Homo sapiens: one gene and its partners. The protein of the gene in region 2 purifies or fractionates together with the protein of the main gene of each other region. This does not show direct contact. Each region holds a gene or a part of one and is shown on either strand. Other genes may lie near its edges. The genes, in order: BTAF1, BSG, SYMPK and DNAAF5.

Region 1 (7,020 bases), on a different chromosome or scaffold from region 2:
CAAGCATCTTGAACAAGTGTTTAAAATATTATTTCCTCATCATACACAATTTAATCCATATAAATCAAGGTTCCATCTTTCTACACCAAAATACCACACCTGAAGGTCACCAATGAACTCTTAGGCTCCAAATCCAATAGTTTTTTACAAGGTCAATTTTTCTTGACTCTTCTTTGACAGCTGCGACCAGCAAGCACCCCATTCTTACAATACTTTCCTTCCTAAGTTGCACATTATATTACCCTGTTCTCCAAACTCTTCTTTCCTTAGTTCTCCTATTCTTAATACTCTTAATATGAATATCGGGAGAATACTCATATTCAATCCTTGACTGCTCAACTCTCATCAGTTTCTCCCTGAGGAAACTGTATACTGTTATTTGTTTAAATTATATCCAGAACAAATATTCCCCAAATCCAGGCCATCTGAGAGTGCCAGTTTCACACTCCCAACTGCCTTGTCATCCTGTTGCCAGATTAACTTCCTAAAACGCCCCCGAATAAATCACTACCTTACTTTAAAACTTTCAATGGCTCACACTTACCTACCAGAAAGTAATCCAAAACAAAAAGTATCTCCCAAATGTGGGTATTTTTGGTTTCCACAATTTTACCTATACTGTTTCCTCCACTCAGAATGTCTCTCACACCCCTTCAAGCTAGGGTTACAGTGGCTCACCCCTCCTCAAGGGGGTGGTTTCCTGGCCAGTTTCTGCCAGATCCCCAGAATGGTCACTGGTTGGGGTTGCAGTGGGTATGTACTCTGCCTCACTGCAACAGCAGGCAGCTGTGCAGATATAATGGCCCCATGTGTGAGACTGGGAACTGTTGGTGGGAGGCACAGCTGAGAATATGGGTATATCACCTGGAATTTAACCAGATACACCACTAGAGGTGATCTTCGGGTGTGCCTGAGCTTGCTTCTCTAACAAGAGAATAAAATGTGCTACAGCAAACAAATAAAGTATTTTTCTCTTTGTTCAACTGTTCAGCTAGCTCCCATCCAACAGGATTCAGCTGAAGTTCTTCACCTTCTTGAAACCATTTCAAACTACTATGCAACAGAGATTACTTCCTTTTCTGAAATCCACATGAATTCTCATCTTGAACAGCTACTTAAGTATTTATTATATTTTTTTGTGGCATCTCTCACATTAATTTGTCACATGAGGTCTAATTTTCCTCATTAGGCTTCATCTCCTTCAATCATTCTTTTTGTCTCGCACAACACTTTGCACAGTATTCAAATATTTGTTATGTAGTTGACATTTACTGTAACTAAAACTATACTTAAGGAAAAGTTCAAGTTTCTTGGGGACAAGTTTAAGAACCAACTTTAAGGAAAGAAAAAATATTTTATATTACCTTTTTTTTTCCTGCTTCCTTTGAGAAACATCCTTAATCTGTGACAGCAGTTTTACATAAAAAATCAGTTGGTAATGTAATGTTTCAGTAACTGAAAAGATCAGCACAGCAGTACTTCAGCCTTCTGAATGAGGCAGTTACGCTTGTCCCAAATAGCAAGCTGAAAAATGCCATGCAATAGGCACTGTATTCCTTCAATAATTTCCATCCTTCTTAAACTTTTCCTTTGGTCCTCTGCTACCCAGCTTCACTTAGAACTCCTGCCCAAAGACCTTAGACTCCTCTCTAACCTAATTGCTGATACTGTCCCACAGACACACAGTTCCTCTTGATTCTCCTTTTTGCAGATCCTTTTATCCCAATGCTATGTCAGGTCACCTCTGCTCTCCCACCAGCCAAATGCCCTGAGGGTAGCAGATCAGCTCATTCTCTCATCCATTCCAAGCCTGTTTATCCTTACTTCTTCCACTTTGGATGGTAACCAAAATTGCCTCCCTGAATAGAGGAATGGAGACACAAGAATGCTTCTTTGATTCTCTTGATTTAAAGCCACTTTCGTAGTTCTCCATTCCTCTCTTCAGGACAGCAGATTGGACACCACATAAAAGGAAGAACAAAGAGATGAGCAGACAAAGATCTGACAAGAGGGCAGTCTGACCTGTTATCTCAGGATAGCCAGCTATGAGGCAAGCAGGGTAAGCATCAGGGCCAGGCCACGGTGGAAAAGGCTGGTACAGTGAACTTGTGGGGAAGAGGAAAAGAACGTGAGACAGAGTCAGTATTATGTTGGAGGGTAGACAGGGCCCTTGGTGAGGGAGAGGTCTGAAGGAAGCTAGATGGTCAGAAGAGAAGGGAAAGTTAAAAGGAGGGCTGACTGAGGGAACACAGTACTTACTCCCATACTACTTTTGGCTAAAACTTCTGTTGCACACAGCTAGCAGGAAAAAGTAACATTCTTCATTCTCTGAAGGATAGACAGACAGATGGAGGAGACACAGGTAACAGATGTCAAGTTGCATGGAAGGTACCAAAGACTATAGAAGATAAGTAAAACATAAGAAAATTATATTTTGTAATATCCACTGGTTATAAATTTATTGAGAATAAGAAATCTGGCCCATTTTCAATCTGGATGTCAATTCCGAGAATTAGCTAAACAAGATATGATTCATGTAACCTGTGATTTCAGGCAACTGTTCTAAAGACTGCCTAGAAAAAGGAAAGAGTACATAGTAGTAGAGGTTATGCTAGCAGTTGCAATCTAACCCCTCTCCTCTCCAGATGTTTGCATTATGTTAATTCATAACAGTAAAGCCATAAAAATAAACAGAAAGAAATGTCATGCATTTTAAACAATAAAACATGTCCTAGATTACTACGTCATAGTTAATAAACAAATACATACTGTATTTCCACTCTAAAACATCTCGGGAGGGGAGGGGCAAAAAGCCTCACTGATATTTTCAAAATATATTTAACCTCTCTGATAAATTAGGAAAGGTCAACTGACAGAATACCTCAAAAAGACAGCTTTGTGGCCTTAACTAAAAAAGCATGACCAGTCAAGAGTAGCCATTTAGTTATACATTTTTTACACGTGGCAAAAGTACAGTAAAATTTTAAATATAGATGATTTGAATGTTTACTTTTCTGTGTTACTCAGGAAGTAAGGAAAGATAATGACCATTACTTAGTATAGTGTACAGTGTGTACTTAATACGTGGAACTTAGTACAGTGCACATATTATCATTAAGGTCAAAAGAAACAACTTCCAACAAATTCTCTAGTGTTTTTAAACATATACTTTCTAGGTCATGTTGTGGGTAATTTGAAACTATGTTAATGTTATGTTGTTTTAAACATAAAGATATCACACAGAACACTAAGAATCAATATGAAGGTGTGAAACCATACCAAAGCCAGGTGTAAGGGCAGGTGCTTGCTAGATAAGTTACCCCACTCTACCCTGGACCATAAACTCCATGAGAATGGAGAGTACAGTTTTTTTCTCTGCTATACCTCTAGCACCTATAACATAGAAAGCACTCAGTAAATATTGGTTAAATGAAGAATGGTGAAAATGTACAACCAAGCTATGCTATTTCCTTCAAGACATTTTTTTCTACCCTCCATCCCTGATCGAACAACCTATAGCCTCTTGCATGACTTTATCTTAATGACAAAACATAGTACATACTAATCTAGGTTCTTTAGCAGCAGTATGGGTGGTTTTAAAACTTCTTATTAATACATATTATGTATTAATATGTAAAATTCATAATACATTTTAAAGTGTATTTTTAAATGGTTAGAACAGTCTATTTTTATGTGTGTCACAATTAAAAAATTTTTAAAATAATAATTCAAACTAGTACCTTGAGAAATACGCCAAAGAAATAAGGAGGAATTTACCATTGGGATTGAAATGGAAAAGCTTTGATTAATGCCTCTTCTACTTTTTCTAGTTTATCTCTAAATTTTTAAAGTATGAGATATTTGATGAATTATAATTTACAATAGTTCCTTCTGTCATCTTATAATGGATTGAAATTAACAATAAGGGCCAGGTGAGGTGGCTCATGCTTGTAATCCCAGCATTTGGGAGGCCAATGCGGGAGGAATGCTTGAGGCAAGAGTTTAAGACCACCCTGGCCAACACAGAGAGACCTCATCTCTATTAAAAAAAAATTATTAAAAATAAATTAACAGGGAGGAATAGGCCTGGAAAACCTGTGTTGTCCTTTATTGGTAATTAAGGTAGTTTTTTCTACATTAACATTTTCCTGTCCAGGACCCACTGAACGTCCCCTACATCAAGAAACTTCCTTTTATTTGACAGAATAGGCCTGTTGAAACAATGTTGCTCTGAAGTATCAACAGTGCAAAGAGAAAATTAACAAAATTGAGCAAAGGTCTGCTATATGTAGCAATTTGTTTCTTCCACAAGAGGATGTGTTTTTGTTTTTTCTGAACCCTTTCTGAACACTGTAACATTTTCAAATGCAAAGATATGTGAGAAATCTAAGGTATGGCTTTTAAAACAGTCATATTATAAGTACTGTCTAGACATTTTAGACATGACCTTTACAGCACAGATCGCTGAGGGAAAACTATATATTTCTGAAACTTTCTCTAGCTGATTAAGGAAAAACTATGTTCCTATTAACTAGCCAATATACAATGATCAGTTCCATTAATTGTGGCATAAACAGGCAAAGGTAGCAAAAACAAGCTGTTTAAAAAATTGTATTAAGTCATGGTTCCCAACACAGCTACAGATTCCCCACCAATGAATAAACCTAAACCAGGCGCAGTGGCTCACACCAGTAATCCCAGCACTTTAGGGGCAAAGCCACGTGGATCACTGGAGCCCAGGAGTTTGCAACCAGCCTGGGCAACATGATGAAACCCCACTTCTACAAAATATACAAAAAAAATTAGCCAGGCATGGTGGTATGCATCTGTGGTCCTAGCAACTGGGGAGGCTGAGGTGGGAGGATCACTTGAGGCCGTGATTGTGCCACTGCACTCCAGCTTTCCAGCTTGGAGGACAGAGTGAGACTCTGCCTCCAAAAACAAACAAACAAACAAACAACAAAAATGCCAAAGAAATCCATCTCAGGTTGCTTTTTTTGGGGGGCGGGGGGGGGGGGGATGGATTCTTGCTCTGTTGCCCAGGCTGGAGTGCAGTGCTGCGATCGCAAAGGTTGCTTTTACCGTTGGTGGCAAAATCCCAACTAAGTAACACATGATAATGAGAAAAAGCCCCATAAAGCAAAATAATGGTGTTCAAAAATATAACACTTATTATTTAAATTATTCACAAGAAACACTGAAAGCCTGTAACATACACTAATTTGTTTTTTGCTGAGGTTGACTTTGTGGAAGCAAGTCAAGTAGCTAGTGAATGACTAGCTGACTTTCCGGCATCCGCATCTTAAGGACAACATTGTTCTCTACTCCTACATTTGGATTTTGGGTCTTTTACTAAGGGTTTAAAAGAGTCATATCATTTTCCAGTGATATTTCACTGGATTTGACAGAGAACTTCAAATGCTATGATTGTATTTACAATTTTAGAGAGTAACAAAGTTATTTTTGCAAGATGTAATTCAGCTACAGATCAAGAGTTGGCCATGCATTTCATAATCTGCCACATTCTTACAACTGAAAGTACAGTAAAACCAAGCCTATTAAGCAGGGTCTAAAAAATTTGACCACATAAAATACATCATATCAATTTTGCATTATAAATGGCCATGCTATCACAGAATTTACTATATTATAAACTTCAAAAATTATTCTAATTGCCTTCCTATAGGAGATAGCTTTAAAAAGAAAAAAATATTCCGATGATTGTTAAAATTAGAAAATGGCCAATATTAAAAAGCTATAGTGAAAGTTTTCCTTACTGCAAAAAAAAAAAAAAAAAAAGAAAAAAGGCAGTTAAACTCAAAAGTACTCACTGAAAAACACTGGAAATAGTCTACTATGCACAAATTACGGTAAAATCATACTCCTACAAATGTAGGAGTAGAGAACAATGTTGTCCCTAAGATGCGGATGCTGGAAAGTCAGCTAGTCATTCACTAGTTACTTGACTTGCTTCCACAAAGTCAACCTCAGCAAAAAACAAATTAGTATATGTTACAGGCTTTCAGTGTTTCTTGTGAATAATTTAAATAATAATTGTTATATCTTTGAATACCATTATTTTGCTTTATGAGGCAACTCATATGGCAACTCAAAAGGTACCAAAGCAAGAAGCAAAATCATTCATTCATTTTTTTTTTAAATGTACTGAACACCCACTAGGAGCCAGGCATTCTGAGCATGGAAAAATCAAAGACACATTTCCTTCTCTCAGAGTTTATGTTAATCCAGCAAGTAAGAGAACAATTAACCAATTACAAAATATAAATATTATGACTGATAGGAATATGTATTGGTGCAAATAGCTCAGATGAAGTAAAACCAGAGAAAATGTCCTGAACAAGGTAATATATAAGCTTAGATCAAAAAATTGAGGCAGGTGGATCGCCTGAAGTCAGGAGTTCGAGGCCAGCCTGACCAACATGGAGAAACCCCATCTCTACTAAAAATACAAAATTAGCCGGGTGTGGTGGTGCATGCCTGTAATCCCAGCTACTCGGGAGGCTGAGGCAGGAGAATCGTTTGAACCCGGGAGGTGGAGGTTATGGTGAGTCAAGAACGCACCATTGCACTCCAGCGTGGGCAACAAGAGCAAAACTCTGTCTCAAAAAAAAAAAAAATCAAACAAAAAAACACACTAAGGTCAGAACTAGCCATACCTGAGATGGGGCTAAGAAGTGTTCCAAAGATAAACAGTAGGGGGTAACAAAATGAATTCTGGGGAGGGTGGAGGATAGAAGAGAGAAGAAGGTGAAGGGGAAGTACAGAGAAGTTGACACAAGATGAATCTAAAAAGATGACACAGGAACCAGATCACAAAGGACTTGGTAAGATATGTTTGTTTGAGAATGTGGACTTTATCCTAAGGCAATAGGAAACAACTAAAGGTATTAATTAGAAAGATTACCATGTTCATGTTCAAATCTTCAAATCAGTAAATAATATGACTGAAGCGAAGAACAGATTGAAATGAGATGCCATGGAAGGCAGGAAAAGGAGAGA
Region 2 (7,020 bases):
GCTCAGGAGGAGCTCCCGCCCACCGCACCTGCCTCAGGAAGAGTTCCTCTGGCGGACGTTCTTGCCTTTGTCATTCTGGTGCTGCCCGCTGCTCTTCCTGGGGCACGAGGGGCCGGGTGAGAGGGTGTCCCCCGCAAGTCACTCTCTCCAAGTCACCCCTGCCCACCCCGGCCCCCAGGACCCCCGAATACTGAAGCCCAGGGGCTCTGCCTTTGTGTTTTAAAGGCCTGGGGCAGCAGGCCGCTCCTTGGGACCCCCGACCCCCACAGCTGGAACTTACAGGGGTGCAGAGCCGGCGTCGTCATCTGAAGAAGGACCGCCGCCATGAAAAAGAGGACGAGAGGACAGCCTGTCAGCACTGGCCCCACTCAGGCCCCGAGCAGGGGCATCTGTGCTGCCAGCCCTGCCCTCAGTGACCCCCAGGGGTGGCTCGGGGCAGCTCATCAGCCCCGGCCACGTGCATCTTCTGAGTGCTGTGGGGAAAGGCAGCCCTCCCCACCTGCAGGTGTGCTCCCCATGGTGAGCTGTCCCCATGGCCTCGTGGGCCTCACCCCTGCCCCACAGCGTTTTCCAGGAGCTGCCATCACAGGCCCCACACAGGCCTCGCCCCGGCACACGCAGCCCAAGGGGCAGAAGGGCTCCGCGAGGAGGCAGGCAGGGGCTGCCGGAGCACAGCATGGCTGACCTCAGGTTCCCGAGCCTGATCATGCAGAGCAGCAAGGGCCGGCTCACCACGGAGGACACTGGCTTGCAGCCAAGTGAGCGGGAGGGAAGGGCCGGGTGAGGCTGTGGGGCGGAGGTGCCGCCTCCTCCTCCCGGGGTCCCGCTGCCCACTGAGCCGCAGCTGCCCGGGGCTAGACCCTCCATCCCACACTTTCTTTCGGGGTCCCATCAACTCCCTGCCTGGGGCTCCTCAGTTCCAAGCTCTGGGTCAGCGGTGGGGCTGGCAGGGACGGACCAGGAGTGGCCCTGGGCCACCCCGAGAGCAGGGCATGTGGGCAGGAGGGCAGACGGCTCACCATCCAGGACGTCCTCGGGCTTCCGGCGCTTCTCGTAGATGAAGATGATGGTGACCAGCACCAGCACCTCAGCCACGATGCCCAGGAAGGGCCAGAGGGCGGCCAGGTGGCTGCGCACGCGGAGCGTGATGATGGCCTGGTCGGAGCCCTTGGAGCTGGTGCCGTTGCACCGGTACTGGCCGGGGTCGGCCTCCATGTTCAGGTTCTCAATGTGTAGCTCTGACCGGCCCTGCGAGGAACTCACGAAGAACCTGCTCTCGGAGCCGTTCATGAGGGCCTAGGGGACCAAAGGCAAGGGCTGAGTCCAGGACCCCCAGTCTAGGCCCCTCACCCAGTCCTGAGGGCTGAGTCCGGGACCCCCAGTCTAGGCCCCTCACCCAGTCCGGAGGGCTGAGTCCGGGACCCCCAGTCTAGGCCCCTCACCCAGTCCGGAGGGCTGGGTCCGGGACCCCCAGTCTAGGCCCCTCACCCAGTCCTGAGGGCTGGGTCCGGGACCCCCAGTCTAGGCCCCTCACCCAGTCTGGAGGGCTGCAGTCCAGAGGGCTGGGTCCGGGACCCCCAGTCTAGGCCCCTCACCCAGTCCGGAGGGCTGGGTCCGGGACCCCCAGTCTAGGCCCCTCACCCAGTCCGGAGGGCTGGGTCCGGGACCCCCAGTCTAGGCCCCTCACCCAGTCCTGAGGGCTGGGTCCGGGACCCCCAGTCTAGGCCCCTCACCCAGTCCTGAGGGCTGGGTCCGGGACCCCCAGTCTAGGCCTCTCACCCAGTCCTGAGGGCTGGGTCCAGGACCCCCAGCCTCCTTGGCTTCTCACCTTGTCCTCAGAGTCAGTGATCTTGTACCAGGCCCAGTCAGTGACAGGTGGCACGGACTCTGACTTGCAGACCAGCATGGCCGTCTCCCCCTCGTTGATGTGTTCTGACGACTTCACAGCCTTCACTCTGGGAGGCCCTGACAGGAGGGTGAGAGAGAGGAGCCTGGAACCGCAGGCCCGCCCCCATCCCCGGCCTCCCGCAGGAGGGCTGTTCCCCTCCAGGGAGCAGGGGGCCAGGGCTCTGGGATGTGCCGGGTGCCTCAGGCCAACAACTTCTCCCGACAGTCGGTGGTGCCCGGTACCCCTGGCTGCAGGACTCACCGTGGAGCTGGATGTTGGCCGTGCCCATGGGCTCGGGGAGGAAGACGCAGGAGTACTCTCCCCACTGGTCGTCGGAGTCCACCCTGCAACCACAGCAGGCAGGTGAGCCGCGTACCAGCTCTGCAGGACGCCTCCAAGGACCCAGGGTTCTCCAGGGGCCCAACCACGGCACAGTGAAAAAGCAAAACTGTCCCAGTCAAGTCTGAACCTCAAAAGAACTCCTGGGGTCCCCGTGCGGCCCCAAGGACAGAGCCAGGCTGGCAAGACCCCACAGGTGAGAGAACCAACAGACCCCCTTCTCCCCGACTGATGAACCCCACACCTCTGGTCCCTGCTCTGCACCCCACACCCTGTGACCGTCTTCCCAGTCAGCCTGAAAACAAAAGGCTCTGTGCTCCCAGGGCCGTCCCAGCCCCAGTTATGACAAAGCTCCGGCCATGACAGCGTCTGGGGTCCGAGCAGGGCATGCCTCAGTGTGGTGCCCTCTTGTGCCAGGAGCACAGAGCCTGGGAGGCCCGCACACGTGCCCGGGACCTGGCAGTGTGGCGCCCTTTCGTGCCCGGGACCTAGTGAGGAGCAAGCAATGGGGACTCCTGCCAGGGCTGCTGGAGCCCCCTGCCTCACAAGGACGCCCCTCAGACCCCTCCCTGGGGTTTCCCTCTGGGGGTCTGCGCGGAGCTGGTCCCTAACTTCCGCCTGGATCAAGCCTGCCGACCGGTCTTTTGTTCTCACGGACCACAGGCCGCTGGCGGCAAGAGAGCCGTGAGAAGGGGCAGGTGGCGGCATGGCGTGGTCAGGCACTCACTTGAACTCCGTTTTCTGGCCGGGCAGCGCGTCCTCCTTCAGCACCACGCCCCCCTTCAGCCAGCGGTGCCCTGTGACCTCTGTGGCGCTGTCATTCAAGGAGCAGGTGAGGAGTATCTTGGAGCCAAGGTCTTCTACGGTAGTGAAGACTGTGCCGGCTGCAAGGCCCGGCGAGACGCGGTCAGCAGAGTGGAGGAGCACGGCCCGCGCTGCCTGCCTGACCCCCAGGAACCTGCGGCTCCTCCCCGGGAAGGACTGGTTTTCATCCCAAAAATACACCGTGGCCCTTACGCCCCGAGGACCGGAGGCCCAAGGGGAACTTCTGGCCACGCCTCCGGGAAGGGAAGAGCCCAGCGCCTGCTGAGGAGGCCCCTTCGGGAAGGCACCCCCTTCGGGAAGGCACCCTTCGCTGGCAGCTGGCGGGCCCTGGGCTAAGGCGCTGGGAACCCAGAGGCCCCGCCTGGCGATGTTCCTGCCCAGAGACACACGAGGCTGGGACCAGGGTGTGGGGACAGACAAGGCACCCACCCACGTCCCTGAGCAGGGACCAGGGCATCGAGCTCTTGTAGCAGCCCCAGCACAAACTGGAAATTCTTTTCTAAAAACGTAGCCAGCTGGGCGCGGTGGTGGCCGGGCGCGGAGGCTCACGCCTGTAATCCCAGCACTTTGGGAGGCCAAGGCGGGTGGATCTCGAGGTCGGGAGATCGAGACCATCCTGGCTAACACGGTGAAACCCCGTCTCTTCTAAAAATACAAAAAATTAGCTGGGCATGTTGGCTCATGCCTGTAATCCCAGCTACTCAGGAGGCTGAGGCAGAAGAATCGCTTGAACCCGGGAGGCGGAAGTTGCAGTGAGCCGAGATTGTGCCACCACACTCCACCTGGGAACAGCAAGACTCCATCTCCAGGAAAAAAAAAAAAAATAGCCACAGCACCCCCGGCCAAGGCTCCCGTGCCCTTCTCTAGGAGGCACTCAGGTGGCCCCACATCCCCCCAGCCCCAGGCTGACGGCACTCCAGCAGTGCTGGGAGCACCCCGGTTCTTCTGCCAATCCCCAACCAAGCAAATCTCTTGGTTCTTGGTTAGTTTACAATATTCCCGCTAGGAATTGAAATTTGAAAATCCCTTAGAACGAGATGCTGCGAAGGACACAGAAGGTTCTGAGACCTGCAAGCCTGGGCTGAGCTTGGAGGGCCCCTCAGGCTTGCAGTATGGACGCTCAGGGAGGGAGCCGGGCAGGCGCCCGGGGAAGCAGAAACGACGGAACGGATGGCACGAGGGTCGAGGGGAGGACGAGGACCCACCTGCTGGAGGGCAGAGCCCTGCCTGCCCCGAGCCAGGCCGCCCAGCGCTGGTGGTCAGGCGGCGAGCCCACCCCCTTCAGGTCCGGGCCCCTCCGTCCAGGCGGTGGGCCCAACGGGGCACAGCGGGACGGAGAGGGGAGGAGGCGTCTGGGTTCTACTGAGCAGGAGCCGGGAGGCGAGCGGCACAGGAGGGAAACTGAGGGAGGCGGGGAGGGAGGTGCCCGCCACTCACGTTCCAGGACTAGCACGACTGCCTGGGCGCGGACCCACTTGACCCTGGGCGCCCGGGTCAGGTGGTTGCGATCCGGGTCGTTGCTGGCCCGGCACTCGTAAGTGCCCGTGTCCTCCTCCACGAGCGTGTCGATGGAGATGGTGCTGGCCGCGTGCTGGTGGTAGGTGGCGTGGATGTGGACGCGGTCCAGCCGGGCGCCGTCCCAGAGCTGGGAGCAGGTGTCGTTGGGACCCTGCCCTTCAAACCACCACTGGATCTCGGGCACCGGGCTGCCCACGGCCTCGCAGTGCAGCTCCACACTGCCCCCCACCCACCTCTGCTGGGACAGCGGCGCCTGGACGAAGCCGGCTGTGGGGAGAGCACGCGTGGGGTCTTGTTAGTGCCTGGGGCACTTGGGAGGGCAGCTCCTGGGGAAGGCCTCGCCCACAGGACTCCCAGCCAGGGCTGGTGGAGAAGCCACTTCCTTTCAGCTTGTGGGAGAGTGATGGGGCCCGGCTGGAAACAGCATGGCATGGGAAAGACCGTGGGCGTCCCGTCCACTGCTACCTCACGGCAGCCACGGCGGCTTCTGAGGGCACAACTGTGGGACCACACGTGGTTTCAAAACACAAAACACATGAAACTGGGCAGAAGAGCCAGGAGTCCTGAGCCCCGAGGGCTGCCCAGAGCTCAGGTCCCAAGCGCACCGTCCTCTGACTTCTGCCCGATACCCTGACCCCAGAGACCCGGGTGAGCTGCTGAGAAAAACAAACCCCAAAGCCCAAAGGGGCAGGCGGCCTCTGTCCAGAAGCCCCTAGCCCGGCTCCGTTAGGACAGCCCGTGGGTGGAAAGCTCGTGTCCTCAGCAATCTCTGAGGGCGGCGACCCAGAGAGAGGCGGATTTGGGAAGCTGGGAGCCAGGCAGGGCCTCAGGGCCTCTCACCTCCAGCCACACGCCTCCCCTTCCTTCGAAATGCAAGGGAAGGCCCCCAGAGCTGCCAAGGAGCACAGCAGAATCCACACAGAACCTCACACTGTGCCTAGCACTCGCCTGCCAGGAACAGCCCAGCCCAAGGGGAAGCGTGGGGAGTGCCTCCTCCCGCCAGGACCTTGCAGCCCTCCCCACAGCACCTTCTGAGGTCAGACTCCCCAGGCACCGCTACAACACACACACACACACAAGGACACACGTCTGCAAACACACACAACACATACACACGTGCATATGCGTGCACACGGCTCCGAGGCTGCGTGGCAGTGCACAGGTCACGGCCCCCAAGGCCACGGGGACAGGAATGTTCACGTCTGAGCACCTCAGGTGAGCTCTGGGCAGGCGCAGTTGACAAGTTTTGGCAGCGCCATTTTCTTTCTCCTCTTCTTCTTTTTTTTTTTTTTGAGACAGAGTCTCACTCTGTTCAGCAGTGGTGTAATCTCAGCTCACCGCAACCTCTGCCTCCCGGGTTCAAGCAATTCTCCTGCCTCAGCCTCCCAAGTAGCTGGGATTACAGGTGCCTGCCACCACACTCAGCTAATATTTTGTATTTTTAGTAGAGACGGGGTTTCACCATTTTGGCCAGGCTGGTATTGAACCCCTGACCTCGTGATCCACCCTCTTGGGCCTCCCAAAGTGCTGGGATTACAGGCGTGAGCCACCGCGCCTGGCTGGCAGTGCCATTTTCACAAAGGGATCTCCTCCTGGTAACCTACATTTCTTGGGAGTTAAGATTTCCCAGACTGCAACACTGGCAGCTATGTGCAGAGCTGGGCGAGGTGAGTCAGGGCAGGAAGCACAGCCAGAGGCTGCCCAGCTGGCAAGCTCCTTCCTGCCCTGCAGCAGCCCCTCTCCTCATCCTCCAGACCTGCAGGGCTGGGCTCCACATCCTCCTCACCCAGGGGTGCTAGGAGAGGGCTGGCCCCTGACTCACCTCACCCCACCTCCAGGCAGGGCAGGGCACACAGGAAAGTGAGGAGGACCAGGTGGGGCCCGCAGCCGAGCTGCCCCCAGCCACCTTTCCAGGAGTCCCGGGCTCCCAGGCGCCATCTGCACCGGTCCCGGTGCTCCCGCTGGGTCCGCCAGCTTCTCAGCGGGCAGCATCGCTCCCAAAGGGACCAAAAGGCTTTGGATGGAACAACCCTGTGTCCCTCCGGATGCTGATGATGCTGGTGTCTGTGTATTGACGTGTCACTGGGGGTGGGGGGGCGTCCGGAAGAGAAAGCCTCCATAGAGGCTCCTCGGGGACAATGCAGAGCGCCCCCACCCCACGGACCACCCCATCTCGCCCGCCGCACCAGGAGCCTCCACCCATGAGCAGCAGGAGGAGGGACGGCGCCTGACCCTCGGCCACAGCCCCAGAAAGGTTAGAATTCGATTCTGGCCACATGAGACGTAACCCATGTTCTCAAGTAAAGTCACCTTCATCTAAAAACAGCCTCCGCCTCCTTGCCCAGGGCTCAGGGCCAGGCAGGCCGCGTGGTACTTGTACACAAGCAGCCCCGCAGGATAAGGCTGCCCGCCCCCACCCGCCCTCCTCCCCACCCACCCCAGTGCTCAGA
Region 3 (7,452 bases), about 45 Mb from region 2:
GAAAAAATAATCAGTTAATATATATTGAACACGGCCGGGCACGGTGGCTCAAGCCTATAATGCCAGCACTTTGGGAGGCCAAGGCGGGTGGATCACCCGAGGTTAGCAGTTTGAGACCAGTCTGGCCAACATGGTGAAACCTCATCTCTACTAAAAATACAAAAAAATTAGCCAGGCATGGTGGCAGGCACATGTAATCCTAGCTACTCGGGAGGCTGAGGCAGGAGAATCGCTTGAATTTGGGAGGAGGAGGTTGCAGTGAGCCGAGGTCACATCATTGCACTCCAGCGTGGGCAACAAGAGTGAAACTGCGTTTCAAATTAAAAAAAAAAAGAAAAAAAACCCACACACACAGAGAGAGAAAGAGAAAGAGAGAGAGAGAACACTTAATATGTGCTAAGCACAATTCTAAGATATACATATTAACTCATTTAAACCTCAGACACCAAGGTTTAAATGAATTAATATGTATATATTAGAATTAATATACATGAGTTAGGTTTACATTTTTTGTTTTTTTGAGACAGGGTGTCACTCTGTTGCCCAAGCTGGAGTGCAGTGCCGCAATCTCAGCTCACCGCAATCTCTGCCTCCCGGGCTCAGGCGATCCTCCTACCTCATTTTCCCAAGTAGCTGAGACTACAGGCGAATCCCCATTTAATTTTTGTACTTTCTGTAGAGAAGGGTTTCGCCATGTTGCCCAGGCTGGGAGTTAGTATTTTTAATTTTCATTTTACAGATGAGGAAACTGAAGACCAGGGAGGTAAAGTGACCTGACCAAAGGCATATAGCTTGTAAGAGGCAGAGTCAGCAGCATGGCTGCATATCTTCCTTACCACTATGCTACAGTACTGTTTATCTGAAAGGAATTGTTTTTTACCCCCAGGTCTGTTTACGTAAGCCAAGGATCCTGGCCACCAGACAACCGGCATGGCATGCCGTCCCCAGTCAAAACATAAAAAAAACAGGCCGGGCATGGTGGCTCACACCTGTAATCCCAACACCACTGCACTCCAGCCTGGGCGACAGAATGAGACTCTGCCTCAAAAAATAAAATAAAATAAAATAAAACCCCATAATAAACATTTCCACTTTTTTCATGATAATACATTCAGATCAACCAAAATATTTTACCCTGTTTCATTCTTCTTCTGCTTTTTGGTTTATGCTTTCAGTTTTGTTTTGTTCTTTTTTAAACACACATACACAAAATTCTCCTGCAGGAGCTAGATTTTATGCAAAAAAAGGAAAAAAAATGAAAATAAAAAAACCCATATATACATATTTCCCTTTCATTTACAAAAAGAGCATACACAGGGCCGGGAGCGGTGACTCACGCCTGTAATCCCAGCACTTCGGGAGGCGGAGGCAGGTGGATCACGAGGTCAGGAGTTCAAGACCAGCCTGACCAACATGGTGAAACCCCATCTCTACTAAAAATACAAAAATTAGCCAGGCGTGGTGGTGTGCCTGTAATCCCAGCTACCTGGGAGGCTGAGGCAGGCGAATTGCTTGAACCTGGAAGGCAGAGGTTGCAGTGAGCCGAGATCACGCCACTGCACTCCAGCCTGGGTGACAGAGTGAGACTCTGTCTCAAAAAAAAAAAAAAGGAGCCTACACAGGCCGAGTTTGGTGGCTCAGGCCTGTAATCCCTGCACTTTGGAAGGCTGAGGTGGGCAGATCACTTGAGGTCAGGAGTTCAAGACCAGCCTGGCCAACACAGAGAAACCCCGTCTCTACTAAAAATATAAAAATTACCTGGGTGTGGTGGGGCACGTTTGTAATCCCAGCTACTCGAGAGGCTGGGGTGGGAGAATCACTTGAACCAGGGAGGTGGAGGTTGCAGTGAACTGGGATCGTGCCAGCCTGGGCGACAGAGTGAGACCCTGTCTCAAAAAAAAAAAAAAAGAAAAAGCATATACAATAAACACCAACCTCCACTTCACTTGTTTTCCCTTAATATATGTTGGAGGCCACTATATCAGTGTATAGAGATTTTCATCATTTCCTTTTATCTACCTCATTCCTTTTTAGAGTTGCATAGTATTTTTTATGTGGATGTATTATAGTTTCTTTCAGCCAATCTTCTTATTTAAGAACATTTGGGATGCGTGTAGCCTTTTGCTATGATGAACAGTATCACTGTTTCCCCTTCCCTCTCGATGTACTCGTTAAGAAGTGGTACCCTGCCCCACTGCTACCTAGGAATCTGATGACTACCCTGTTTCCCCAAACTGGCTCTAGGAGTATCTTTTATTCCTTCAACGAACATTAGCTGGGCGTCTCCGGCGTGATTGGCGCTGTGCTGAGAACACAGTGGCGACAGAGACAAACCTAGTCCCTACCTTCATGGAACACACGGTCATAGACATCATAAAACAGCACACAGATAAGAGTCGGATAACAAATTAGACCACACGTGACATGAAGGAACACGGACCGACAAAAGCATTTAACAGGCGGATTTCTGGATGGAGGGCAGGGAAGGAGGGCTTCGCAGAGGAAGTGACGTTGGTGCCGAGACCCGAAGGATGAAATGGGAGTTAGCCAAGCCGAATGGGTAAAAGGATGTTGCAGGCAGAAGGGACAGCCTGTGCAAAATCCCCGAAGCGGGAAAGCGCATGGCAAGTTTAAGGAACCGAAAGGCCAGGGCGGCTGTTAGAGGTGGGGGAAAAAGCAAAGAGGCCGAGTCGAAGCAAGCGAGGTCTGCGGGGCGGTGGCGCCCGGGGGGCCACGTTGGAACTTTGCCTCGAGGGCACTAGGGAGCCAAGGAAGGGTCCTGAGCAAGGGAAGAAACATGGGTCGCGAAAGCCACTGTTCCCCTCTCCCCACGGCGATGCCCTCCCCGCCCGAGCCCCTGCTTCTTTAGGAGCCTCCTCCTTTCGTCTCCGGGCCCAAACGCCGCCTCCCGCTCACCGCAGCTCTGGCCTCCGTTCCCCTCGCGCCCCCTCAGCAGTGCCTCTTCCTACACTCCGCCGCCGCCGCCGCCGCCATCTTCCGTTCGTCGCCGGGAACGGTGCGCACGCGCCACACACCCAGGGCCGCCGGGAAATGGAGTCCAGAGCACAGCCCGACCCCGCCCATGCCTCGTCCCGTGCGAGCGGCATTCTGCCCGCCTCCATACTACGGCGAGCAGACCCTTCATTTCCGGCTCTGGGTCCGGCTAGGCCTTCTGGGAAATGTAGTCCCTTCGGAGGCACCGGGCGGAAAGGGAGCTAGAGCATTCTGGGAAATGGAGTTCTCAGTGGTGCTGAGTCCCTGGACGGCTGGCTGGTCTTGGAGAGTGCGGAGTTCGGGCAGCGAAGCTCCTGGGTCTTGGAGGGGAGGTGGTCTGTTGCCCTAGTGGGGTCTGCGGAGAGGCCCCGATCCCCTCCATCTTTGTTCTTGACCCTTTCAACAGTCTGAAGCATTTCTTTTTCTTTTCTTTTCTTTCTTTCTTTTTTTTTGGAAACGGAGTCCCGCTCTCTCTCCCAGGCTGGACTGCAGTGGCGCGATCTCGGCTCACTGCAACCTCCGCTTCCTAGGTTCAAACGATTCTCCTGCCTCAGCCTCCCGAATAGCTGGGATAACAGGCACGCACCATCACGCCTAGCTAGTTGTTGTATTTTTAATAGAGATGGGGTTTCACCCTGTTGGCCAGGCTGGTCTCAAACTCCTGACCTCAAGTGATTCGTCCGCCCGCCTCGGCCTCCTGCAGTGCTGGAATTACAGGCGTGAGCCACCGCGCCCGGCCAAGTTAAGCATTTCTAGCCGTCGGAAGCCTCAGTCTTCCTGTCTGTCCAATGGGGATGTGATTTCGGGGACCTTTTACGGGTCCTTGTAGTCGCATAGTGGCCCTAGCGTTCTGATTCCCCTTTCTTCCGCCACGGTCATGCAGGGCTCTGGCTCTTCGTCCTCTCCTGCCGAGATGATGAAGCCCCCTGAGGTAGAAAGGCTCCAGAGTTCTGACCTCGGGGCCCTTGGTATCTGCAGCGTCGCTGCGGGCAGCTCCCTCACTCCTGAATCACCCCCAGCTGTCGCGTCCTGGGGCTGCGGCCCCCGGCGCCTGAGGTCTGTCTCCTGGCGATCCCGCAGGGGGCGCCCCAGTCCGAGCGCGCCGCCCTCGGGGAGGCGGGAGGGGAGCCCGGGGCGGGCGAGGGCGGGGGTGTCCCGGCTATAAAGCGTGGCCGCCTCCCGCGGCGCTCGGGACAGCCGTACCCCGGGCGGTCGGACGGGCGGGCGCCGGTGGGAGCTCGGGCCGTGCCCGCTGAGAGATCCAGAGCGCTCCGTTCCCCCGGGGCCGGAGCGGGGGCGGGTGGGGGCGTAAGCCCGGGGGATGCTGGGCTCAGTGAAGATGGAGGCCCATGACCTGGCCGAGTGGAGCTACTACCCGGAGGCGGGCGAGGTGTGTCCTCGGGGATGGCGGAGCGGGAAGTTGGGGGCAGGTATCGGGGTGTGGGCTCACATGGAGCAGGGACTGGTTGTGGGTTCAAATGGAGGCAAAGGCGTCTACTTGGGCAGCTGAGGAACTGGGAACACGGAGACCAGGTGTGGAAGTCGGGGACCGGGGACGAGGCATGGATGGGAGCGCTGTTTGGGCAGCCTCGCCGCGGCCAGGGCTTAAAAATGGAAGTCAGGAAAATTTAGCCAAGGGTCGGGTCACACCTTAAACTTGGGAGCCGGGTGTTGGAGCCCCAAAAAGCAAGGGATTTATATGTACAAACCAAAGATAGGAATCAGAGTTCCAGGGTAGGGGACAGACTAGGGGGTTTCAGGATGTGAGGTTCAAAGTTGGAGGGAAAGAAAGACTAAAAGATGGAGGAGGAGTCACCATTAAGGGGAAGACTGAGGTGGGAGCTCAGGGCCAGCACACAGTGTTAAAGAACCGGGGTTCGGGGCTAAGGATCAGCTGGTAATCTAAGGTAGGGTCAGACATAGGGATTGGTGCTCAGGGGTCAGAGATGGGGGTGCTCAGAGATGAAGCTTCGTTTTTGGAGTCTGAAATAACAGGTGGCTTAGAGTTGGGCATCTGGGAGCAGAAGATGTAGCCATCAGCATTGGCAGGAGAGGGGCCGATCTCCACCCCCCCATCCCTACCCATGACCCTCCGCAGGGACTCCCCAAGTCGGAAGATGGAGAGTTTTAGATTGTGCACCTTCCCCTGCTCCCCGCCAGTCCAGCAACCTCCAGCTATTGCTAAAATTCCCATCCAGTCTCACCTCAGACAAGGCTTCCCTGGAGTGGGGGGTGGCGGCATATTCTAATCCCCTCACCTGGACAGACAGAAAGTCCTTCCTCAAGTCTGACCCCCATTCGTCTTGCTGCAACGACCCCTACACCTTAGCTACCTCACTCTGTAATCAACGTTGTGAGGTTGTTGGGGCTGGGGGTTGGGTTCTTGGTCTGAGAATTATGGGGGTCTGGACACTTGGACTTCTAACCTGGAAGGGGACTGTGGGCTTGAGGTGGGGTGTGGGGCAGGAATGGCTAGGTTCTCCAAGGAGTCAAGATCTGGTGACTGCGGGGGCCCCAGTGTGCCTGAGTCTTGGGTCTGGGGCTCGAAACTGTAGGGTGGGACTCCTGGATCCCCAGGCCTTCAGGGCTGGGCAAGGTGCCTGGGAAGGGCCAGTCCTGGGTTTGGGGAGGTGTGAGGTGCACGTGGGGTGGGGCAGGGCCAACAGGGAAAGGGACTGGGAGTGTTGAGAGGTGGAGGCAGGGTGGCTGGAGGTATCAGTTGTGAGATGCGGAAGGCAGAGACCCAGGTGGGAAATGGAGGGTTCCAGGTAGTGGGGGTGATCCCAGCTGGACCTCTGCAGAACTCAGTCTGGGGACCTGATTTAAGGGAACCACCTACAGACCAATTGTACAAACCAACTACAGTTGTTTTGGGGGCACATCTTAAGTAAATGATGGGGGTCTAGGCAGGAGGAGTTGATATTTGGGGCACAGTCTGAATAGATCCAAGTTTAGGGGACAATTTGTATGGAAATTGTGTCAGAAATTGAAGGAAAGCCGGCACAGTGGCTCACACTTGTAATCCCAGCACTTTGGGAGGTCGAAGTGGGAGGATCTCTTGAGCCCAGGAGTTTGAGGCCAGCCTGGGCAACATAGGGAGACCTTGTCTTTAAAAAAAAAATTTTTTTTTAATTAGTCAGGCATGCCTGTAGTCTAAGCTACTTGGTTGGGAGGCTGAGGTGGGAGGATCACTTGAGGCTGGGAGTTCGAGCTGCCGGGAGCTGTGATCGTATCACGGCACTCCAGCCTGGGTGACAGAATGAGACCCTATCTCAAAAAATAATAATAGTAGAGGGACAGTCTGGAGGTAATCAGCATTTCAGGGCATATTTTGGGAGAGTCAGTATTTGGAGGAATGGAAATGGTTGGGTGATACTGTCTGAGGCTCTCCCCAGCCTTCCCATCAGATAAGCCCACCTCTTCCCCTTGGGTCAGAACAATGGGGAGAGAAATACCTACACTCAGCCAGCAACTGAGAGCTGAGAGGGTCCCCAAACCACTTCTTGCCCATAGCACCCTCCCGCTTGGGGTGACGTTAACACTCAGGGCAGCTTGCTGTCTGGAAAGAACTTGGAAAGTTACCATCCTGGGATATCCCTGTTGGCCTCAGGTTCTTGCAGATCAGCTGGTCCAGCTGCTCCCCTGTTTTAGAGGTGGTTAACTCTGAAGCCCCGCACGCAGAACACTGGGGTCCTGGGTTGGGTCTGGGACTAGAAACTTGGCTTCTGGCTTCACACTGCCTTCCTCTGCTCCCTGTCACACCCTTCTCCAGAGACAATAAGGAAATGAAAGAGGAGAAATTCCAGTCTCCTGGTGTGGGGGTGCGGGTCCCCCAAGGGCTTCCCCCCAATCTCAGCCCCACCCTGTCAGGGGAGATCCGGCTCAGACCCGGACACCAGGGGTTCATCCCAGCCCCGGGGCGTGGGAAAGCCTAGGGTGGATTAGGGCAGCTGGAGTGCTTGAGGTCGGACCTCAAGGAGGACTTCCGGGTGGGTGGGGAGCCAGAAAGGAGGGCCCTGGGGTCCCTGTCTGTCTTACTCTGCAATACCAGAGAGCCTGACTGGGTTGCAGAAATGGGGGGTGGAGGTATAGGGGGATTTGGAAACTCTGTGGACCCCTCTAATCCATCACCTTCTCACCTCATCCCTTTTCTTTTTCTGGGGAGGGGACCCGAAGCCACCAACCAGCGGGAGAGCCTGCATGGGGGAAGGGAGTAACTGTGGCTGCAATTTCACTGTAAGACTTGGGGTGAGGGGGAATGGATTTGTTGAAGGGAGGGAGATAGATAGATAGATAGATAGATAGATAGATAGATAGATAGATGCATGGATGGATGGATAGATAGATTGATAGGAAGATGGTGGCTCGTCATGGTAGCTCATGACTGTAATCCCAGCACTTTGGGAGGCCGAAGAGGGTGGATCACTTGAGGTCAGGAGTTCAAGACCAGGCTGGCCA
Region 4 (7,737 bases), on a different chromosome or scaffold from region 2:
AGATGGTCTGCATCAGGGGCCCGATCAGAGACTCCGACTGCATGTGGAAGTGGTCTGAGGGACAGGGAGGCCCCCAGTTACCAGAGCTGCTCCCACACGCCTCGCCCAGCTCTGTGGGCTTCCAGAGGACGGCTGCCTGCCTATGAGTTCCTCACCTCCCTTCCTCTCCTACGCCAGGTCCTTGCTGCATGAACAGTACACAATCCAGGCTGCCAAGGAGAGCTCTGTACCGCCCGGCACAGGAAGAGGCTCAGGGACAAGCGTCCCACCCTGATGACACCTGTGCAACCCAGAGGCTTAGGAGGACCAGCGGGGAAAGGCTGGGGGTGCAAACCCATTGTGGCTGAAGACCAGAGAGCCTGGACCTGCTGAAGCCAAGGTGGAGGCCTGACGGGGACACTGGCCAGAGGAAAGAAGCCGAGCCCAGAAGACAGAGGCGAGGCCACACTCCCAGCCCCACCTGAGACGAGACCCCAGGCTCCTCCAGGAAGCTGGGCCAGCACCACTCCAGGCAAAGCCACTGCACTTCCTATTTGTAAAGTCCCCGCAGAAAGTCAGAACAAGAGGTGGCAGGCGCCTGTAATCCCAGCTACTTGGGAGGCTGAGGCAGGAGAATCGCTTGAACTCAGGAGGCGGAGGTTGCAGTGAGCTGAGATCGCCCCACTGCACTCCAGCCTGGGAGACAGAGTGAAACCCTGTCTCAAAAAAAAAAAAAAAAAAAGTCAGAACCAAAGGGTCTCTGGCATCCAGGCCGCCTCTTGCCTCAGCTCTGCACTACTTGGGGCCCGTCTGGGAAACGGCTATTCCAGTGAGACTTTGGGTGAGCGCCTCAACCTCTCTGCCGTTGCCCAGTGTGACCGAGACCAGAGGTGAGGCCCCCCACCCAGGGGAGAGGAAGGCCAGAGGTGCTGGAGATGAGGGGATGCTCCAGGCAGAGGCACAGTCCCTCACCCCACAGCAACCAGTGAGCACATACCCCAGCAGGCTGCGCTTGGGGCTGGGGCACAGATGGGCACAGTGCTGTCCTGTGGAACCTACGGTCCAGGGAGGGAGCTCGTGGGGCTGATGTACAGACTGGGTAGGGAAGTGGTTGAGGATGAAGAAGAAATACATTAAATGCCAGGAATTCTCAATGGCCATGTCCATCCAGCCCAAGGTTCTTCCCCAAGCTCCACAGGAGTTCTGGACCATGTGAAATCCAAAGTTAACCAACGTGGAAATCTCGGCATTTCCCCAAGTCCAGCTCTTCCTCTACTTCTGGAATCTATTCTCCACGCAGCTGCAGTGATCTTTTAACAACCTGAACTCGGGTCTATCACTTCTATTGACACCCCCTGCACTTCCCACTACATTCAGACCATCACTGGGACATCACTGGGACGGCCTGAGCTGGCCAGATCCCTCACTGCTTTCCTGCTCCCTACCGCCCACGGATTTATAGCATCAGTGTTCCCTCCTTCGGAAAGCCTTCCCGCCAGCAGGAAGCAGGCGCCTGCTATCATTCCACATCCCAGCCAGGGGAGGGAAAGGGCAAGACCCTGCAGGAATGGCCAGCTAAGGAAAGGGAACGACCGGATCAGATCAGAGCTCTAAAAAAGATGGGGAACGTTATAAAGTGGAGGGGAGAAGCGGCCTCCTTCCACTTAGGACAGTGGTCCAAGCCAGAGCGGAAAGGCAGGGGAGTAGGATGAATGGGACAGAAAGTGAAATGACCAGAGCAGAGTCTCAAAGCGCGTGCCCTCAACCAGGTGCAAGTCCTGCAAGCCCCCGAGGGAAGGAAAGGGGGCAGCTATCAGGGCACACCCCACCCCAAACCGCCTAACAGGAATTTCTGCGGTGGTTTCCAGGTATCTGGACAGAAGCGCTGGCTCGTGGGCCCGGGTGGGGTGGAGGGGGCTCAGGCAGGGAGGAGGGTGGGAGGTGAGGGTCGCGGGAGGGCGGCGTGCAAGGAGGAGGATGGCACAGGATAGGCAGGTGGAGGGGGCACAGGGAGCAGGCAGGTGGGGGGCGGGGCTTGGGGCGTGGAGGGTGGAGGCGGGGAGCAAGGGGACAGGGGAGTGAGGTGAGTGAGGGCCAAGCAGGAACAGGGGTCACGGGGCAAGGAGCACGTGGCAGCGCAGGAAACAGGTACATGGGGGTAGAGGACAAGGGAGCAGCTGAAGGGCGCGTTGGTGGCGGGACGTGAGGCAGGGGAAGCAGTGGTGGTGGGAGGAGGGGGCCGGGCGGGGTGCTTTGGGGCAGGCGGGTGGGGGAAGCGGCGCATGGGGGGTCCGGGATGTTGGGGGGTGCGGGCGTGGAGGGGGGCGGGGCCGAGCCGCGGGGGTTGTGAGAGGGGCCGCGGAGGTGGAGGTGGGGGTGAGAGTGTGGGGTGGCGTGTGGGAGCGGGGCCCGGGGTGCTCACCGGGCGTGGCCTGCGCCAGGGCGGCGGCGCAGCTGCAGCTCTCGCGGCGCACGGCGGCGAAGGGGTCGAGCAGGGAGCAGCGCAGCGCGCGCAGAGCGTCGTCCAGGTGGGGCGCGAGCGCGGCGCCGCACAGGTCCACGGCCAGGCCCAGCAGCTGCACAAGCGCCAGGCGCAGCTCCTCACAGGCCTCGGGCGGGCGGCGCGCGGGCACGGGGCCGGCCAAGCGCGCGGCGAGCGCGGGCAGCAGGCGCGGCAGGGCATCGCGGGGCCGCGCGGCGCGGCGCAGGCCCAGATCCAGCAGGTGCACTGCCAGCGCGCGGCAGCCCTCGGCGGGGTCGCTCAGGCAGCGCAGCAAGCGCGGCAGCAGTAGGCGCGCCCAGGGGCCCTGGAAAGCGGTGGGGTCGGCGGCAGGGCCTGGCTCCTCCAGCGCGCGCCGCAGGGCCTCCAAGGCGCGCCGCCGGCCCGGCTTGCTGTCGGCCTCCAGCCCCGGCAGCAGGCGGCTCAGGGCGCGGCTCAGCTCCACCGCCTCAGCCGTCTCGGCCCCCTCAGCCGGGTGTGGGGCCGCCACGGCCTCCGCCACCCCCAGCGCCGCCATCTTGCCCGCGTCGCCGGTCACTAAGGGGAACAGCGCTTTCGCGACTCTCAGCGCAGATTACGGCAGCACTTCCGGTCCGCGCTGCGGGCGGGGCGCCGGGCTACTTCCTCCCCGCCGGTGCGCACGTGGGCCTGTGCTCTTGTCGTGCTCGCCCGCTGTCCCCCTCTGTCGCCGGAACCCCCGCCAGCCTGCCTGCTGGGCCTTGTCCTGTCCCCATTGTACAGATGGGGAAGGTCTCGGGAGGGTGCAGCTCGCCCGGGATGCGGGTCCCGGGCTATAGGCCTGGGCCTGCCCCTAGGGAAGCCTGCCCTGCAGCCTAGGGGGCTTGGAGAAGGAACCTGAGTGGTCCCGCCTGGGACCAGGGTAGCCGGGAAGCCCCTGTTTGAGCCGCCTAGAGCCCCTCTGGCTTTGGGAAGGTCCGTTCCAGGAGGGAAGGACGCTGGTTCTGTGGACTGGATCCCCCTGTGGTGTAAGACAGGTGCCTGGTCTGGGCTTCACGTGCAGCCTGTCATTAGATCTCAGGCGTAGCCGCCCAATAGGTTCGCCTTACTCGCTGCCCAGGTAGAGCCAATTTATCAAGACAGGGGAATTGCAATAGAGAGTTTAATGCATGCAGAAACTGGCTGCATGCAGAAACTGGCTGCATGCAGAAACTGGCTAAAGGACACTGGAGCTTTATTGCTCAAACCAGGTTCTGAAAATCCTGAGATGGGTCATCTAAGGATAATTAGGCAGGTAGGGGGCCAGGGAGAGGGCAGTGCTTATTGGTCGGGTTGGAGATGAAACCATGGAGAGTCAAAGTTGATTCTCTTGCTGTCTTCTGTTCCTGGGTGGGATCACAGAACTGGTTGAGCCAGATTAGTGGTGTGGGTGGTGGCACCTGGTGCATCAGAATGCAGAGCCTGAAAAATATCTTGAGCACCAATCTTAGAGTTGATGATAGTGGTGTTATCCTAAGGAGCAACTGGGGAGGTTTGGAATCTTGTGGCCTCTAGCTGCATGACTCAAACCACAATTTCTAATCTTGTGGCTCATGTGTTAGTCTTACAAAAGCATTCTGGTCCCCAGGCAAGAAGGAGGTTGGCTTCAGGAAAGGGCTGTTATCATCTTTGTTTCAAAGTTAAACTATAAACTAAGTTCCTCCTAAAGTTAGCTTGGCCTACTCCCAAGAAATAACAAGGCAGCTTGGAAATTAAAAGCAAGACAGTGTTTCACAGTAGTGACCTTGACTGTGGACTTGAGTGGAGACAGAGGCGCCTAAACAGCTTGGAGTCGGAGTTGCTGTGAGCCCAGCCTAGAACGCGAGTTTGACAGCACTCACTGCAAACCAGGAGTCCCCAAGTCTGGTTAGCCAGGCACTTCTCATCTGTGACCATGCACTGAGTTTTCTAAAGGCAGAATGTGTGTAATTTTAGGACAGAACTTCAAGTTTGACCTTCTTTTTTGTTGTTGATCTTCGTGTTGCAAAATGGTGGTGTTTGTCGGTACGTCTTTTTTTTTTTTTTTTGAGATGGAATCTTGCTCTGTCGCCCAGCCTGGAGTGCAGTGGCGCGATCTCCGCTCACTGCAGACTCTGCCTCCCAGGTTCATGCCATTCTCCTGCCTCAGCCTCCCAAGTAGCTGGGACTGCAGGTGCCCACGACCACGCCCAGCTAATTTTTTGTATTTTTAGTAGAGACGGGGTTTCACTGTGTTAGCCAGGATGGTCTCGATGTCCTGACCTCGTGATCCGCCCGCCTCAGCCTCCCAGAGTGCTGGGATTACAGGCGTGAGCCACCACGCCCGGCCCATCAGTACTTCTGAAAAGTTGTTATGTAGCATATTCAGTAACCTTCATTCATTGTTTCCTCCAACAGGCATTTGTTTGACCAGGCACTGTCTGCAACATGTGGGACAGGATGACAATGATGTAGAAACTGGCCATGGTCCCTGCTCTCCCAGATCTTAGGGTCTTGCAGGATGAGATAGCCCTTAATGGAAGGATAAATTAGTATGTGTTTAACCGTGGTGGTCCTGAGAGAATGAGTGTCAAGGGATGTTGAACTAGACTTTTAAGGCTTCCCTGAACAAATGGTAGCAGAGGTGAAATATGAAGAATAAGTAAACACAGTGTATTAGTCCATTTTCACGCTGCTAATAAAGACATGGCCGAGACTGGGTAACTTATACAGGGAAAGGTTTACTGGACTCACAGTTCCACATGGCTGGGGAGGCCTCACAATGATGGCCGAAGGCGGGAAGGAGCAAGTCACATCTTACATGATGGCAGCAGGCAAAGAGAAAATGAGAGAGCCTGTGCAGGGAAACTCCCCCTTATAAAACCGTCAGATCTCGTGAGACTTATTCACCATCATAGGAACAGCACAGGAAAGACCTGCCCCCATTATTCAGTTACCTCCCACTGGGTCCTTCCCACAACACGTGGGAATTGTGGGAGCTACAATTCAAGATGAGATTTGGGTGGGGACACAGCCAAACCATGTCACATAGCCAGGTGAAAGGGCGGAGGTGGGAGACGGGGAGTGTTGGAGAGAGAGGAAATAGCATGAGCAAAGGCCTCATGGGAGTGTTACGGGCTGAATGGCGTCTCCCCAAAATTCATATGCTGAAGTCCTAACCCCCATAGTTCAGGAAGTGATCCTGTTTGGAGACAAGGTCTTTGCAGACGTGATTGAGGTGAGATGAGGTCATGAGGTTGGGCACTCATCCAATATGACTGCTGTCCTCATAAAAGGAGAAATTTTGGAGATAGACGTGCATACAGGGAGAATGCAGTATGAGCATGAAGAGAGACCTCAAGAGGAGCCAGCCCGTACCCTGATCTTGAGAAATCAAATTTGTTTCATTCAGCTGCCCAGCCTGGTGTGCTTTGTTACGGCAGCCTCAGGTAGCAAACAGGGAGGGAGGCTGACCCTGGTCACAGGGGAGCAGGCAGGGAGTGAGCAGATGGGTGGGGCCAGGCCATGGGGGCCTCTGTCCTAAAACATGGCAGACTGAGGATTTCAAGGTGGGAGCATTGGCAAGATCGAGTCTGCATTTTTCAAGGACCCCTTTGGCTTCCGTTGAACGGATTGGTCGGGAGCCCTGGGAAGGCTGTGGCAGTGAGTGCTGAAGACGAGAAAGAATAAGCGCTTGAATTACGGTGGTGGGACTTCACTTTTCCTTGCTCCTCCCATTGAAATACAACAAAATACCCTGCACATAGCAGGCGACGAGGAAAGGAGCTTGAGAGTTGACAGACGGGCTGGAGACCTCTGGACTGGAGGAATAGCAAGGTGGTGGGTCCCCTGGGTTTTCTTTTTCTCTCATGTGTTCCTGCACTAGTCCCCAGGGAAGCCTGTGGCCCAGAACAGCCAACAGGCACAGACAGAAATTCTCCAAGGAAAGCCTCCTCTCTCTGGCCAAAGCCCTGGGAAAGGGGACGCCCAACAGAGACCTAGAGGGTAGCTGCCACCTTCACCCCACAGTCTGCTTTCAGGGCCGATTTTAAAGCTGCTGCAGGTGCATTAACCTGTGCTGTGCAACTGGGGTTCGAGTGGACAGTCTGCACTGCACAGGTAGTGTCAGAGGAGCCTGAAATCTGCCCTTCCTCTCTTAGCACAAAGAGACCCAGAACGAGCATGTTCTGTCCTGACACAGCAAAAGGTAGCCCAGTGACACCAGGCGGCCCAGGGAGGTACCTTTCACCCCTGCAGGCAGCACCCATGGGAAATGAGCAGCAGTCCCAGGAGAGCCAGAAGAATAAAGCAGACGAGGAGGGCAGTGCCAGGGCTCTGAAGACGAAACTGCTGTTGGAATGACAGACCACAAAAACAGGCTGCAATCTACACCCTGGACCTGAACAGAGCAACTGCCTGGTGGAATAGAGTAGGACAAGGAGTCTGCAAACATCGTAACCCAAATGTCCAGGATACATCTGGAGATCACTTGTCATACCAAGAACAAGGAAAGCCACAACCTGAACATGGTAAGGTAACGGATGTAAATTCCAAGATAGGTCACATGTTGGAATCATCTGCCAAGAATTTTAAAGCAGAGTCATAAGAACCAGCTGGGCGCGGTGGCTCACGCCTGTCATCCCAGCACTTTGTGAGGCCAAGGCGGGCAGATCACCTGAGGTCAGGAGTTTGAAACCAGCCTGGACAACATGGTGAAACCCCATCTCTACTAAAAATACAAAAATTAGCCAGGCGCGGTGGCTCACGCCTGTCATCCCAGCACTTTGTGAGGCCAAGGCAGGCAGATCACCTGTGGTCAGGAGTTTGAAACCAGCCTGGATAACATGGTGAAACCCCATCTCTACTAAAAATAGAAAAATTAGCCAGGTGCAGTGGCTTACGCCTGTCATCCCAGCACTTTGTGAGGCCGAGGCGGGCAGATCACCTGAGGTCAGGAGTTTGAAACCAGCCTGGACAACATGGTGAAACCCCATCTCTACTAAAAATACAAAAATTAGCTGGGTGTGGTGGTGGGTACCTGTAATCCCAGCTACTCGGGGAGGCTGAGGCACGAGAATTGCCTGAACCCAGGAGGTGGAGGTTGTAGTGAGCCAATATCATGCCACCGCACTCCAGCCTGGGTGACAGAGCAAGACTCCATCTCAAAAAAAAAAAAAAAAAAAAAAGGCTGAAAACTCCCCCAATTCAATGAAAAACATAAATCCACAGATTCCAGAAGCTCAACAAGGCTTCATAGGACAAGCCCTCCAAAAACCCCATACTAAGACACATCACAATTAAAC

Evidence for each region.
Region 1: the proteins of BSG (region 2) and BTAF1 purify together in Homo sapiens (affinity purification with mass spectrometry; 4 studies listed by BioGRID and IntAct, with this or other methods). This does not show direct contact.
Region 3: the proteins of BSG (region 2) and SYMPK purify together in Homo sapiens (co-immunoprecipitation; 5 studies listed by BioGRID and IntAct, with this or other methods). This does not show direct contact.
Region 4: the proteins of BSG (region 2) and DNAAF5 purify together in Homo sapiens (affinity purification with mass spectrometry; 4 studies listed by BioGRID and IntAct, with this or other methods). This does not show direct contact.

What each region holds. Positions count from the first base shown.
Region 1 is NC_000010.11:91,926,760-91,933,779, reverse strand, and holds part of BTAF1 (TATA-binding protein-associated factor 172), read right to left. Parts: intron 2,399-7,020; exon of another isoform or gene 2,260-2,398; intron 1-2,259. UniProt on the Homo sapiens protein: Regulates transcription in association with TATA binding protein (TBP). Removes TBP from the TATA box in an ATP-dependent manner.
Region 2 is NC_000019.10:575,591-582,610, reverse strand, and holds part of BSG (basigin isoform 1 precursor), read right to left. Parts: intron 4,838-7,020; coding exon 4,490-4,837; intron 3,112-4,489; coding exon 2,955-3,111; intron 2,233-2,954; coding exon 2,150-2,232; intron 1,966-2,149; coding exon 1,829-1,965; intron 1,297-1,828; coding exon 1,020-1,296; intron 306-1,019; coding exon 281-305; intron 98-280; coding exon 34-97; 3' UTR 29-33; intron 1-28.
Region 3 is NC_000019.10:45,860,142-45,867,593, forward strand, and holds the start of SYMPK (symplekin), read right to left. Parts: upstream 3,007-7,452; 5' UTR 2,917-3,006; intron 1,887-2,916; exon of another isoform or gene 1,759-1,886; intron 1-1,758. Other genes in the region: FOXA3 (hepatocyte nuclear factor 3-gamma), read left to right, coding at 4,316-4,384. UniProt on the Homo sapiens protein: Scaffold protein that functions as a component of a multimolecular complex involved in histone mRNA 3'-end processing. Specific component of the tight junction (TJ) plaque, but might not be an exclusively junctional component. May have a house-keeping rule.
Region 4 is NC_000007.14:721,980-729,716, reverse strand, and holds the start of DNAAF5 (dynein axonemal assembly factor 5), read right to left. Parts: upstream 3,019-7,737; 5' UTR 2,997-3,018; coding exon 2,402-2,996; intron 2,128-2,401; exon of another isoform or gene 2,041-2,127; intron 1,848-2,040; exon of another isoform or gene 783-1,847; intron 55-782; coding exon 1-54. UniProt on the Homo sapiens protein: Cytoplasmic protein involved in the delivery of the dynein machinery to the motile cilium.